Homo sapiens: one gene and its partner. The protein of the gene in region 2 purifies or fractionates together with the protein of the main gene of each other region. This does not show direct contact. Each region holds a gene or a part of one and is shown on either strand. Other genes may lie near its edges.

The links. The genes of interacting proteins can lie anywhere in the genome.
Region 1: the proteins of FMO5 (region 2) and OGA purify together in Homo sapiens (affinity purification with mass spectrometry; 2 studies listed by BioGRID and IntAct, with this or other methods). This does not show direct contact.

What each region holds. Positions count from the first base shown.
Region 1 is NC_000010.11:101,808,033-101,815,846, forward strand, and holds part of OGA (protein O-GlcNAcase), read right to left. Parts: exon of another isoform or gene 7,733-7,814; intron 5,575-7,732; coding exon 5,523-5,574; intron 5,096-5,522; coding exon 4,998-5,095; intron 4,275-4,997; exon of another isoform or gene 4,220-4,274; coding exon of another isoform or gene 4,216-4,219; intron 2,283-4,215; coding exon 2,152-2,282; intron 1-2,151.
Region 2 is NC_000001.11:147,194,072-147,201,885, reverse strand, and holds part of FMO5 (flavin-containing monooxygenase 5), read left to right. Parts: intron 1-381; coding exon 382-734; intron 735-7,814. UniProt on the Homo sapiens protein: Acts as a Baeyer-Villiger monooxygenase on a broad range of substrates. Catalyzes the insertion of an oxygen atom into a carbon-carbon bond adjacent to a carbonyl, which converts ketones to esters.

The DNA.
Region 1 (7,814 bases), on a different chromosome or scaffold from region 2:
CATTTTCAATTAAAAAATCGTAAGTTAAACAGTTTTGGGACCCATTTCTCATTTGGGTTTGAATGCACTACAGGCTGAGTATTCCTTATCTGAAATGCTTGGGACCAAAAATGTTTTGGATTTTCATTTTTGTTTTTTCCTGGATTTTGGAATATCTGTATTATATTCAGCATCCCTAACCTGAAAATCCAAAATCTGAAATGCTCCAATGAGCATTTCCTTTGAATTTTATGGAGCTCAAAGAGTTTCATATTTTGGAACATTTCAGATTTCTGAATTAGGGATACTCAACTTATATGACAATATGATCCAACAAAGTGGCCTAGCCTCCTAGTCCTCATGGGCTGCTGCTGATTGTAGAAGACCCAACAAAGTCAGAAAAATACAGAAACATGAGTAAGTAACCTTAAGACATGAAAAAGCCAGGCTGTGTCCTAGTCCCAAAAGGCACACTGATCCCTTTGCAGATAAACCTAACCAGGTATGAATCAGAAAGAATAGAATTTTATCAAATAGTAAAATAACTTCATTCATGAAAATTTCAACTGCCTTAAATTTTTTACCAGACATTTTAATGCCACCCATATAAATCTTTGCCTAAAGAAATAAGACATGTATATAGAAAAACCAGCAAACTAAAATAACAGAAAAATGGGGCCGGGCGCAGTGGCTCACACTTGTAATCCCAGCACTTTGGGAGGCCGAGGCGGGCAAACCATGAGGTTAGGAGTTCGAGACCAGCCTGGCAAACATGGTGAAACCCCATCTCTACTAAAAATACAAAAAAATTAGCCAGGTGTGGTAGCACATGCCTGTAATCCCCGTTACTCAGGAGGCTGAGGCCAGAGAATTGCTTGAACCCAGGAGGTAGAGGTTGCAATGAGCTGAGATCGCGCCACTGCACTCCAGCCTGGGCGACAGAGCAAGACTCAGTTTCAAAAAAAAAAAGGAAAATGGAAGCCCCCTACATTGGACCAAAGGAAGTCTGCAGCTTTTACATTAAGCAGACTTTACACTCAATTAGGTTCACCTAGTCTGTTTTTCTTCTCATCTTGGGAAACTAGCCATTTCCAGACATCTCTTCGTCCATATAATTGAAGAAACTAATGTCTAATAGGTAAAACCCTGTTTCTGTAATCTCAGGTGTAAATTCAAGCCAAGCAGCCTAGGGTATATATAATTTCTCAAAATGTGGTTCTTGACCACCAATCACCTAGATTCCCGGTCCCCACCTTATCCATTTGGGAAATAAAGTCCAGCAGTCAGCATTCTTCCAAGCTTCACTTCTAATCATTCTTTTAAGGCAGTTCTTATGCAAACTGAAATTTGAGAAGAACTAGTACCTCCAGTAAAGCTCTTTTTACTTAATTTGGAAAATATTCCTCTATCAGAAGGATTCAAGGCTGGGTGCACTGGCGCACGACTGTAATCCCGGCACTCTGGGAGGCTGAAGTGGGTGAATCACCTAAAGTCAGGAGTTCGAGACCAGCCTGGCCAACGTGGCAAAACCCTGTCTCTACTAAAAATATAAAAATTAGCCAGGCATGGTGGTGTGCCTGTAACAGCTACTCAGGAGGCTGAGGCATGAGAATCGCTTGAACTTGGGAGGTGGAGGTTGCAGTGAGCCGAGATTGGGCCACTGCACTCCAGGCAACAGGGCAAGACTCTGTCTCAAAAAAAAAAAAAAAGAAAAAAAAAGCATTCAAAGTAAAAAAAATTCTTATAGAAACAAAGAAATAAAAAACCAGGCATGGTGACTCACACCTGTAATCCCAGCACTTTGGGAAGATCATGAGGTGAGCAGTTCGAGACCAGCCTGGCTGGCATGGTGAAGGCCCTGTCTCTACTAAAAATACAAAAATTAGCCAGGCATGATGGCACGCACCTATAGTCCCAGCTACTCGGGAAGCTGAGGCAGGAGAATCACTTGAACCCGGGAGGCGGAGGAGGTTGCAGTGAGCCGAGATTGTGCCACTGCACTCCAGTCTGGGCGACAGAGCAAGACTCTGTCTCAAAAAACAAAACAAACAAACAAAAAAAGAAAACAAAGAAATAGGAATTTGATTTCCTTTTAACATCGTAAAAGCAACTGAGTAAACTTCTAGTTTCAAGTACATAGTCAGGAAAAATGAATAAAAAGTAAGGAGTTACCTGGTCCAATTTACGTTTCAATGTGGATACTTCCTTGGGGTTAGAAAAAGTGATATCCAATCCAGGTGAGATCGCATAGATGAACTCTATCTCATATTCTCGTGCAGCAGAGATGAGAGTCATAAGTTGCTCTAAAGAACAGAGTCTATGTTTTTAGAAAGCAGAACAGAAAACTAAAAGAACCTTCACTGAAGGTTTAACTGAAGAGGTTATTTCTTCTAACTTACAAGAAAGGAAAAGATCCTCACATTTTACAAATTGTCATGTCCAACTTAACAACAGGCCATACAAAATGGTACAAGCCTGAAGTGATTTAATGTCACAGTAAGGGAAAAAGAATAGTTTTCACACCTTTGAAATCTGAACCAACAGAAAATAAGAGGCCCTTCTTTTTCACTTCCAAATAGTTTCTTATCCTTTTGGGGAAACAGGCTAAAATCAATAAACATTTTCCTCCCTTTCATTGCCACTTCTCAAAAACACTGAATTGTCAATTCTCTTACTGAACTTAAGCCATTTCTATTTCCTGCAGCATTTGAAAGGCATAAAATGCAGCCGCTGCTTTTTTATTTTGAGAGCCTTGCTCTGTTGCCCAAGGCTGGAGTGCAGTGGCACGATCCTGACTCACTGCAACCTCCACCTCCTGAGTAGGTGGGATTACAGGCATACCCGGCTAATTTTTGTTTAGTAGAGATGAGGGTTTTGCCATATTGCCCAGGCTGGTCTCGAACTCCTGGCCTCAAGTGATCCGCCTGCCTTAGCCTCTTACAGTGTTGGGATTGCAGGCATGAGCCATGGTACTGGATCTTGCTTTTTTTTTTTGTTTTGCCATCTCTGAACAGCTGGAATTCCTAACTAAATAAACCTACACATAACTACTTTATAATATGAAAGAAAGAAAATGCTTTCTTAAGAATCAGGGTAGGCCAGGCCCAATGGCTCATGCCTGTAACCCCAGGACTTTGGGAGGCCAGGCAGGAGGACTGCCTGAGGTCAGGAGTTTGAGACCAGCCTGGTCAACATTGTGAAACCCCATCTCTACTAAAAATACAAAAATTAGCCAGGCGTGGTGGCGCATACTTGTAATCCCAACTACTAGGGAGGCTGAGGCAGGAGAATTGCTTGAACCCTGGAGGCAGAGGTTGCAGTGAGCCAAGATCGCACCACTGCACCCCAGTCTGGACGACACAGCAAGACTCCATCTCAAAAAATGAAAAAAAATGAAAAAAAAAAAAAAAAAAAAAAAAAATGAATCACACCTGTAATCCCAGCACTTTGAGAGGCCACGGCAAGTTGACTGCTTGAGTTCAGGAGTTTGAGACCAGCACAGGCAACATGGCAAACCCCTCTCTCTACAAAATATACAAAAATTAGCTGGGTGTGGTGACCCGCGCTTGTAGTCCCAGCTACTTGGGGGACTGAGGCGGGAGGATTGCTTGAGCCGGGGAGATCAAAATTGCAGTGAGTCACTGCACTCCAGCCTGGGTAACAAAGTGACAAACGCTGTCTCCAAAAAAAGAAAAAGAAAAAGAACCAGAGTTAAGTCATGGCCTTAACAATCTTGACCTGTTTCTATCTATGGGAAAAACATTAATTATAGATTTTAACCTTTTAAAATTATCAATTGACAATTTTCCTAAATCAACTTAACTACTACTAGTATATACTATAAGACATATTTTTGAATAATTTTCAGTAGTATCTCAAGATAGTCATTTTTACTCTATTTTGATTATTGATCACATTAAGTTTCATTACCAGCACCACCAGAAAGTAATTAAGTTGAAGGCACACTTAAATAGAGTAGTAAACCACAACACTAGATGGAGATGGGGTAAGCTGTAATTGCTTCTTTGTAATTCAAGAAAACTTTCAGCCTTCTGTGCCTTGGCTGGGCTCTGTAACCAAATATCTTGTTAGCTATATGCGTATACCATTTAATTTCAAGTACAAAAATGTTTCACCATTTACAAGTTCCCAAAGAAAAGCACCTCTCTAATTTGGCGGTTCAATGCTATACTACTTTTTATCAATTTTATGTAACCAACTCAACGTTAAGTATACCCATAGCAGGCCGGCCGGGCACAGGAGCTCAAGCCTGTAATCCCAGCACTTTGGGAGGCTGAGGCAGCAGAATCTCTTGAACTCGGGAGGGCGAGGTTTGCAGTTAGCCGAGATCGCACCACTGCACTCCAGCCTGGGGGACAGAGCAAGACTCTGTCTCAAAAAACAAAACAAAACAAAACAAAACCCAAAGACAGCCTATTAATGGCTTCCCACTTTCCTGGACTAGGGTTTAAGGACCAGTAACTGCTGACAAGGCCAAGCCATACTAGAGCCTGAAGCAAAAGGAACAATCAGTAGTGCTGATCCTGTCTTTACCTAAAATTTTAGCATTGTGTACATCATGAATTTCTGCATTAATTTTGGTTTTTTAAAAAAATTGCATAAAATATTATTTATGTTGATTACTTTTTGGGGGTCCCTTAAAATTTGCACCCAAGGTACGTGCCTCACTTGCCTTGCCCTGGGCCTAGCCCAGCTCCAGCACTTCTTTGCCCAGTGGCCCACTGTTTAATCCACTGGCAGAAGTAAGCAGCACAATCTATGACCACAGAACAGATGGAGTCAGCCTAGCACGCCCATGATATCACACATATGGTCATGACCTTGCTAGCGCAGAGCACTCTTTCAATCTCAGCTAACTGAATAGTTACCAGATAGAAGAAAAGGAAACTACCTACAAAATAAAAATAAAATGTCATAAAATTCTTGTACAACTACATTTAAAATATAACCGTTTTCTTCACAGATTTTGAATTTATGGATAAAAAGAAAAAGATTACCAGCTTCCTCCACTGAATACATCTCTCGCCAAAACATCCTATGTTTGTAGTCATCTTTTGGGGCATACAAGTATGTATTTAATTCCCATTTCTGGAGCCTTAAGGAGAAAGAAAATTACATATGTATAAACAGGCAACATTCATAGGCTGTCAATCTCCATTTCCCTCTTCTTGGAGCATCTCCATCTCATACAAAGCTAATATTCTATGACAGTAGCTTTTAACCTTTTTGTAATCAGTGGAATTTAAAAAAATTAAGTATTACAATGTATGCCAACATACAAAACACTCTTAAAAAACACAACAGCTCTGGGTAAGGTGAAGCCCAAAACTTATTCAGCTCCCCAGGAAAAGTTTGAAAATCAAAGGCCTAGGTGAAGAAAAAAGGGACCAAGGTAAAATAACTTCTGCAATTGAGAAACCATCAAAATGCACCTGGGCTATTCACTGTTAGTATTTCTTCAAACAAAAGAAAATGTTAAGAGTTTAAGGTTCTCCTCTCTCCTTCATATAATGAAGATTTACCTTCTAAAGAGTTCTTTTCTCTGTTCCATAACCCAAGGTCTTCCATAAAATCCTAGATTCAAAGTAAGAATGAAATTATATTCAGTTTTAAAATGTGGTAAGCTTTATTGAGAAAAGCAAGTTACAAAACATATAATACAATCCTATTTTGTAAAAAGCATAAAATACACCAAATCGGAAGGATATTTAATAAAATACTAAGGTTCCTTTAATCTTTGGGTGGTGACGTTACAAGGTGACTTTTATTCCATTTTTGCTTAGGTAATTTTTTTTATTTTTTCTACCATGACATTAGTTACTTAGGTGATAGTTATTTTAAAACAAACATCTATCATCTTTCCACTGTTGATAAAGTCCAAATATATTTAATTCCAATTTTTTAAGAGATCTCAATCTTATAATGGGGAACGGCAGCAATGTAATACAAGCTGCCAACAGTAACAATTACTTCCTAGAATGATAGTAAAACTGCTTTAGAAAGGGTGAGGGGAGGCCGGGTGAGGTGACCCACGCCTGTAATCCCAGCACTTTGGGAGGCTGAGGCAGGTAGATCACTTGAGGTCAGGAGTTCCAGACCCAGCCTGGCCAACATGGTGAAACCATGTCTCTACTAAAAATACAAAAATTAGCCAGGTATGGTGGCAAATGCCTGTAATCCCAGCTATTTGGGAGGCTGAGAAACAACAATCACTTGAACCTGGGAGACGGACTTGCAGTGAGCCGAGACTGCGTCACTGCACTACAGCCTGGGCTACAGAGCAAGACTCCATCTCAAACAACAACAACAAAAGGGTGAGGGGAGATAAACAGGTAAAGCAATTAAAAACAAATCAGAGATAGGATTAGGAAAGAATCTGACTTAATTTTATGATCGTGCTCCTCTTTTTTAAAAAAAGTTCCTGGCCAGGACTGGAATTCCAGTTACTTGGGAGGCTAGGGCAGGAGAACTGCTTGAATCCAGGAGGCGGAGGCTGCGGTGAGCCAAGATCCGCGCCATTGCATTCCAGCCTAGGTGACAGAGCAAAACTCTCTCTCTCAAAAAAAGTTCCACATACAATGATATAATCAAAGGGACCAAAAAATGCCTGAAACCACATTCCCAAGAAATTCAACAGCCTAACTGGCCCAAACAACAAACTCTCACGCAATCTTAATTACAGAGCAAAGATCTGAACAAATGAAAATTCAAGAATATTACTTCTGGTCCTTAAACGGAAAGGAATAAACAAAGAAAACTCAAGAATGTCCCCAGAGTATCCTCTAAGAGGACAAAACACTAGTTATGCACACACTGCAGAAAACAAACTCGCAGACCGATAACCTAAATGGTTGAATAAGCATCAAACTGGTATCTGGAACTCCCTAGTGTGCTCATCACAGCTCAAACCACACACTTTACATCTTGTCTAACCTTTACTTTCCACTTGTCTCAGTCTAATCATCAGTAAGAGATAAGGACAGCCTCTCAAGAGTACCATGAAGAAGGTTAATAAAAGCATTCTGAACACAAAATGTTCTACATAAACCCACACAATCTACATAAGAGACTAGTCTAAAACAAATTTCTGCAATGTATTTTAGCTCCAATCTCTAGGCAGAATGACTCCTCTGCACCACAAAAAGGACAATGACAGACCAAATTAAAATTCATTACATACCAATGTATAACTGTAGCACTTTCATCTGGACAATCTAATGTTAGCCTCTCACAAGTGATACAAAATATTCTTTTTTTTTTTTCTCAGGCGGAATCTCACTCTGTCGCCCAGGCTGGAGTGCAGTGGCACTATCTCGGCTCAATGCAATCTACGCCTCCAACTCCCGGGTTCAAGCGATTCTCCTGTCTCAGCCTCCCGAGTAGTTGGGATTACAGGAGCCCGCCACCACGCCCGGCTAATTTTTTCTATTTTTAGTAGAGACAGGGTTTCGCCATGTTGGCCAGGCTAGTATCGATCTCCTGACCTCGTGATCCGCCCGCCTCGGCCTCCCAAAGTGCTGGGATTACAGGCGTGAGCCACCGCGCCCGGCCAATATAAAATATTCTTGATCAGGCAGACCTATACAAGTCTTTAGCATCCCTACGGCACTTAGCATTATCATTTTTTTTTTAAGGAGTAGGCATTAAACATCCTTTCAGAGTTGCTCCAATATAAAAAAAGACTTTTCAAATGTCTAGCTTAATTAAACATTTTAATCTTTAGAAACCCTACCTTGGCTCTTTTGAGAGTCAGGTTCATGGTTTCGGTTGACTGGCACCACAAAGAGGAAGCAATGCTGTTAATGTAAGTTAAA
Region 2 (7,814 bases):
TGGAAATGAGACTGAACAGAATGTTGACAGCTTAGTTCTGTCAGACTTCTTGGTATGAGAATACAAACTATTGACCTGTGGCCTTATCATATCACACACAGAATATTATTGTTACTTGAGAAATCATATATGCACTCCTCAAACAACACTCTTCCTTCACTCCTCCAACACTCTCCCTTTCAGTGCATCCAGGGTCCAACTTCAGATCTGATCTTGATCTGTGCCAACCTAGTATAAATTAGACCTTTTCCAAACTTCATGCATAGACCAAGGGGAAGATTATTGGCATCCTGTTTACCTCCACCAAAGCAAAATTTTACTTATGTGGTACTGATTTCTCTTTCTCTCATTTCTCCACTTGATCTTTGTCACGACTCACAGAGCTCTGAGTCAGCATCCAACCTTAAATGATGACCTGCCAAATCGTATCATTTCTGGCTTGGTGAAAGTGAAAGGAAATGTGAAGGAATTCACGGAGACAGCTGCCATATTTGAGGATGGCTCCAGGGAGGATGACATTGATGCTGTTATCTTTGCCACAGGCTATAGCTTTGACTTTCCATTTCTGGAAGATTCCGTCAAAGTGGTCAAAAACAAGATATCCCTGTATAAAAAGGTCTTCCCTCCTAACCTGGAAAGGCCAACTCTTGCAATCATAGGCTTGATTCAGCCCTTAGGAGCCATTATGCCCATTTCAGAGCTCCAAGGACGCTGGGCCACTCAGGTATTTAAAGGTAAGTGACCATGCAAATAGACTACTTAATTACTTGGTGATATGTTTACCTCTGTTTAGGTACTTGTTTTTAAATAGCTAGAGATAGCATGTATGATTACAACAGTGCCTAGCACAAAGTTAGTACAGAAAAATATATTTTTGAGTGAATCTAAAGTAGCAATTTATAACCATGGACATACATCATACCTGGGAAATTTTTCCAAGCTATGCATGCTTTGACACCATCCTTGCTGATGCTTATTTAGTTAGTCTGGGGTGGGGCAGTCATAACATCTTTGAGAAAAATATTCCCCAGTAATTCCAATGTGTACTCCAAATTAGAATTTACTCATCTAGATTTTAGGCAACTGGCATATATTTCTGAAGTAAAATAGTTTTATCTTCTTTCATTATAGATAAAAATAAAATATAGAAATAGTATGACTTTATTTCGGCCGAAAATTAAGACCTGGTTGCAGACTAGTCAATATTGTAGGATATTCAATCCCCCAAATTCTCACTTTTCTCCTTTTATGTCCCCTCTTTCAGTTTTGGCTAGGAATATATGAAAAAAAAAGGGGAATAGGTTTCATATGAGTCAGTAGAATGATATAGCTTCCAAAGAAATAATTAAATCTAGCATCATTAAAAAACTATAATGTTCTAGAACATTACAACTGTTGTTCTCTAAACTGGCCAGACCACACCTAATGATACATTTTAAAAGTGAAGCTGGAGTGCGTTTAATAAGGAGAGAGAGAAAAATTTTTTAAGGGATTTGAAAACATGCCATCTGAAGTACAACTGAAAAAGCCGGAGAGAGATTTAGCCTGGAGAAGATAAACTTCAGGAGAGATATGAGAATTTCCTTCAAATATCTGAAGGGAAGGCACATGGAAGAAGGATTAGATTTACTCAGTATAGCTTCAAAGGGTCAAACCAGAATCAAGGAGTGAAATCTTGAGGGTTACACATCAGCTTACCATTAAGAAAAAAATCCAAAACCTTTTTCCTATCAGCCAATGCCATTTCATGATGGAACCAGCTGCCTCTGAAATTCTAAGCAGAAAAGGAAAAGGATGCCAAATGACTGAATGCTCACTGGGCCGGGGCAGGAGAGGGGGAAGGTATGGAGTAGATTCAAGCCTCAGGATAGAGAGAAACAAGATGATGTTTAAGGGTCCTTCTAAAGAAGAAATTCACTGATTCTATGGTTGTTATAACAAAATTTGCTATTGTTACTAGCATTTAATTAAAACTACTCAGAGTTCCTGTTGGAATTACACCTTTTTTGTTTTCACTAGTGAAAATCTTCACAGTTGCAGAGAAAAAAAGAACCAATGGTATTACAGTTGATAGTTCAACAACCTTTCTAAATTTCCCCAAATTTCTATTACTTCCAGTCCTATCCAGCAGATTATGTACTACCTGAGAGAACTATACAAGTAGTCAAACGCAAATAGCCCATTAAGTTGGCCTAATTCTAGTCATATTAAAGTGATCTTTTAATTGGGTCAATTACATAAGCGGAGAACAGTTCATTAAAACAGGCCACAGCATCTTAGTATACTTTAAGCAACTGGGACTCTTTTCCAAGACCAAGTGAATTCTTGAGAGGAAATAGAGAAAATGAGTATTTGCAAGAGTCTGCATTATGGTTATGAGATTATGGGATCTTAGGGAAAATGTACAAAAAGCCCAGCTTCCTATGCTAGCAGAAGCCTAGTGCTAATTCCTCCAGCTTTTTTCTAACACCTGGAAGGAAGAAATCTTCAGAATTCTCTAACTTTACCAGACTTCCAACAGGAACTCTGGGTTTTTTATTCTGTCCATGGCCAATCTGTCTGCCTCCCACATTCTTGCCTTTCTCTTCCCTGAATTATCCCTTCACTATGCCAATTTTAAACCCTTTGGATTAGCTTGTTTTTCCCATTTTTTTCATGTCTGCCCAACAAAGCCTGCCTCCTTCCTTGTCTGTTCCCTACCAAGCCCCATTTTCCTTCTTCTTCTGTTCTCTGGAATTATTGTTCTCTTGTCAAGAAAATATTCTACTCTTTTCTAGAACACTGAATTTACTTCCTTGCCTTGACTGAAATGAAACATAGTTTCTGTTTTGATTGCGTCTTTTGCAGCCCTTGCAAGTGTTTTATTTTCACTCAGCAACTTTCTTTCCTTCAAAACTATATCAAGTTACACCAAATCTCTGGATCACAAGAAGTCATTATGTCATAGGCTGGCATTAAAGTTCCTCCACAAATTGGATACAACCTCCAATTTCAGGCCCATCTTTCTTTCTTTTTTTTTTTTTTTTTTTTTTTTTGAGATGCAGTCTCGCTCTGTCGCCCAGGCTGGAGTGCAGTGGCGCTATCTCGGCCCACTGCAAGTTCCACCTTCTGGGTTCAGGCCATTCTACTGCCTCAGCCTCCCCAGTAGCTGGGACTACAGGCGCCCGCCACCATGCCCGGCTAGTTTTTTTGTGTTTTTAATACAGACGGGGTTTCACCATGTTAGCCAGGATGGTCTCCATCTCTTGACCTCGTGATCCGCCTGCCTCAGCCTCCCAAAGTGCTGGGATTACAGGCATGAGTCACTGTACCCGGCCTCAGGCCCATCTTTCACTAGTCTTTACCATACTTCCTACAATACTCTAGATGCACTGGATGACGTACCCACTAAGCAGCAAACACAGCAGGTACCCTTGTACCCTGTGCTTTTGCTTCCACTGTGCTTTCTTCTTGATATGCCCTCCTTTTACTTTTTATTTCTATAGGAAAAGTCTATGCATATTTCTTCCCTCCCTTTGTAATATAGTGATAGCTCCTTAAGTAAAGGACTCATGTTTATTTGCCTTTGTATTGCAAGCCTAGACCACTGCCTAGCACATAAGAGGTATCTAATAAACATCTATTCTAAGAAATGTCAGTTTAGCCTTGAGGTAAATTAAATTCTAAATTCTGATGTAGAAACTTCTTATTTGAGGATCTCAGCTTATGGGCTACCTTAGCCAATTTCCAGTTATGTTAAAAGCCTGAACTGGACTGAAATTGCAGAATGGGAGCCAGATCTCTTTTCTCTCATAACATTAGCTATACACTGAAATATGCAGGAGCAAGTCAGGATTACACAGATACAACCTGCTTTAGGCTGACAGCAGACTGAAGGCCTACCACCACAGAACTCTAATTCAGACTCTCTTCCTTCCCACCTTGTCTTGGAACCCTTGGAAGATCTCTGAACTTCAGTTCCTCACTGTTCTTCAACATTCTTCAGATAACATATACTGACCTTTTAGTATGTACCAGGCCTTCTGCTAGGGGCTGGAGAAGCAAATATGACCATACAGAAAATCCCTATCTTTCTGGAATGCAGAGCCAAGCAAGGAAGACTGTGTTAGCCCATTCTCATGCTGCTATAAAGAACTGCCTGAGGCTGAGTAGTTTCTAAAGGAAAGAGGTTTAATTCACTCACAGTTCTGCATGGCTGGGGAGGCCTCAGGAAACTTACAATCATGGCAGAAGGAACTTCTTCACAGGGTGGCAGGAGAGAGAATGAGTGCTGAGTGAAAGGGAAAGCCCCGTATAAAACCATCAGATCTCGTGAGAACTCACTCAGTATCATGAGAACAGCATGAGCAGTATGAGAGTAACCACCCCATGATTAAATCACCTCCCACCAGGCCCCTCCCATGACACATGGGGATTGTGGGACCCAAAATTCAAGATAAGATTTGGGTGGGGACACAGCCAAACCATATCAAAGACAGACAAGTAAACAGACGCTTAATGATTTGTTCATTCAGCAGATATTTAACTATATCCTAAACAAGTGCTCCAGTAGCAATGCAGAAGAGCTGCCATGAGAGCAGTGGGCAATAAGTACCCAATTCTCCCTACAACTACATAGGAATTTACTAAAAGGACAAGGAAATATTGACCATAGAGGGGAAATAATCACTACTGTTTATGCAAAGTTAGATGAAAGTGACAGAACAAATAGAGTTCTGGGAACTGCAAGTAGTTCAGAATGCTGGTAAAGTGTTATAGGAATGAAGGAAAATGAAACTAGAAATATTCACAGGCAATATCAAGAGTTTGCATTTAAGGTACAAGTTGGAGAACCACTGAAGGATTTTAACTGGAAGAGGAGTCAAATCAGATCTCCAGTTTAGAAGATATGTTAGAGAGGAGTGAAATGGGAAATAGGTCAGTACGAGCCTGTGGTAAAAGTCTCAGTAAGACAGCATGAGAGCTTTAAACCAAGGTAATGACACTCTAAAGGAATTGGAGGAGCCAGACTTAAATGAAATTTCACAGGCAAATCTGAAGAATTTGGTGACAGAAAGCATGTTGGAGAAGAGAGACAGAAAAGAATCTGTTCAGGTGTTGAGGCCATTCATTGGAATTGGGAAACTAAGACAGGGAGCAAAGACATGGAGGGAGATAAGAAATATGGTAAAGCTAATGTGTCTAAATAAGGAAACACTGCAAAAACAAAATTTATGAATTAAGACATAACTGTACCACAGAGTATACACGTAAAAAGATGTATACATCTTTTTAAAATTTTTTAATTTTTTTAAATTTTTTCACCCCATGAGCTCTAGACTAAGATGTATATACCTCTTTATCTATCTATATATAGACAGATAGGGTAATAGATAGGGTTTTTTGTTGTTTTTTTCTTTCTTTTATGAATTGGGTGTCTCCCACAATCAAGAAATATACCTCCTCCTTCATGTTTCTAGCTAATAGAAGTAAAACTTGTGGTTGTGTAGAAGTAATTTGGAAATTGACTCTCAAAACGCTTATTTTGAGTATCCGAAGAGACCTATGATTAAGCTTAAATGAAGCATTTCAGTGTTTCCTAATTGATTTATGATGATAAATAATAATTCCCATGGCTAAAATGTAAAAACACATGGAAAACAACAGAAGGCTATTTGAGAGTGATGAACTTCTGAGTTCCATATTTTAAGAGGGATACACCAGGATAGTTATTAGAGTATGCTTAGTGAAGGGCAACCAAGATGGCAGAGAATGTGAAAACCATTATATGGGAAACATGTACTGTTTAGCCTGATAATGAGAAGACTTAAAGGAGTTATGACAATCATTTCCAAATGTTTCAAGAGCTGTCATGTATTAACATTAAACTCTGTGGCTCCAGAAAGCAGAGCTTGGTCCAGTGGTGCAAATGCAAAGAGTCAGATCTTGGGGTCAATAAAAACAATAATGTTCCAGCAGCCAGAGCAGTCAAATAATTATATAATCACCTCAGATATAATTATTATAGATACCCATCACCAGTGATGTTTAAAGAGGAATGAGATAACCACTAGGTTAGAGTACTTGTAGAAAGAATGCTTGTATCAGGTAAAATATATTGCCATTCTGAAATTCCATATTCCACAATTTTATGGAGTGACACCTTAGGACTGGATGTGGCCAAAATCTTCTACATGGCATAGTCCCTAGTTATAGGGGCATACAACTAATTGTTTAAGCTTAGCATTGTTCATACTGGCTTAAATACTATTAAGCCTTAGTCTAGCCCTGTCCTTGGTGTATAATTCCTACAACTGGAACTGTTTGTGCATCTTACTTAAATTTATCAGTTAATATTAGGTATTATGAGTTCCCCTTGGCCTTAACCCCTACTCTTATCAAAGAAACATGTTTAGAAAATGAAGCTTATCTTCCACAGGACTTTAGGCATAAAATGTGATTAAGATTTATTTTGGCTGGGCATGGTGGCTCATGCCTGTAATCCCAGCACCTTGGGATGCAGAGACGGGTGGATCATCTGAGGTCAGGAGTTCGAGACCAGCCTGACCAATATGGTGAAACCTCGTCTCTACTAAAACTACAAAAAAAAATTATTTGGGTTTGGTAGGATATCAGTGATGGAAGATGAAAGGAATGAAATGAAGTGAGAAGGGAAGTTTAGAGAAAAAAGAATAAAAAGAAACGAACAAAGCATCCAAGGAATATGGGACTATGTGAAAAGACCAAATCTACGTCGGATTGGTGAACCTGAAAGTGACGGGGAGAATGGAACCAAGTTGGAAAACACTCTGCAGGATATTATCCAGGAGAACTTCCCCAATCTAGCAAGGCAGGCCAACATTCAGATTCAGGAAATACAGAGAACGCCACAAAGATACTCCTCAAGAAGAGCAACTCCAAGACACATAATTGTCAGATTCACCAAAGTTGAAATGAAGGAAAAAATGTTAAGGGCAGCCAGAGAGAAAGGTCGGGTTACCCACAAAGGGAAGCCCATCAGACTAACAGCAGATCTCTCGGCAGTAACTCTACAAGCCAGAAGAGAGTGGGGGCCAATATTCAACATTCTTAAAGAAAAGAATTTTCAACCCAGAATTTCATATCCAGCCAAACTAAGCTTCATAAGTGAAGGAGACATAAAATACTTTACAGACAAGCAAATGCTGAGAGATTTTGTGACCACCAGGCCTGCTCTAAAAGAGCTCCTGAAGGAAGCACTAAACATGGAAAGGAACAACCGGTACCAGCCACTGCAAAAACATGCCAAAATGTAAAGACTGTCAAGGCTAGGAAGAAACTGCATCAACTAACAAGCAAAATAACCAGCTAACATCATAATCACAGAACCAAATTCACACATAACAATATTAACTTTAAATGTAAATGGGCTAAATGCTCCAATTAAAATACACAGACTGGCAAATTGGATAAAGAGTCAAGACCCAACAGTGTGCTGTATTCAGGAAACCCATCTCATGTGCAGAGACACACATAGGCTCAAAATAAAGGGATGGAGGAAGATCTACCAAGCAAATCGAAAACAAAAAAAGGCAGGGGTTGCAATCCTAGTCTCTGATAAAACAGACTTTAAACCAGCAAAGATCTAAAGAGACAAAGAAGGCCATTAAATAATGGTAAAGGGATCAATTCAACAAGAAGACCTAACTATCCTAAATATATATGCACCCAATGCAGGAGCACCCAGATTCATAAAGCAAGTCCTTAGTGACCTACAAAGAGACTTAGACTCCCACGCAATAATAATGGGAGACTTTAACACCCCACTGTCAACATTAGACAGATCAACGAGACAG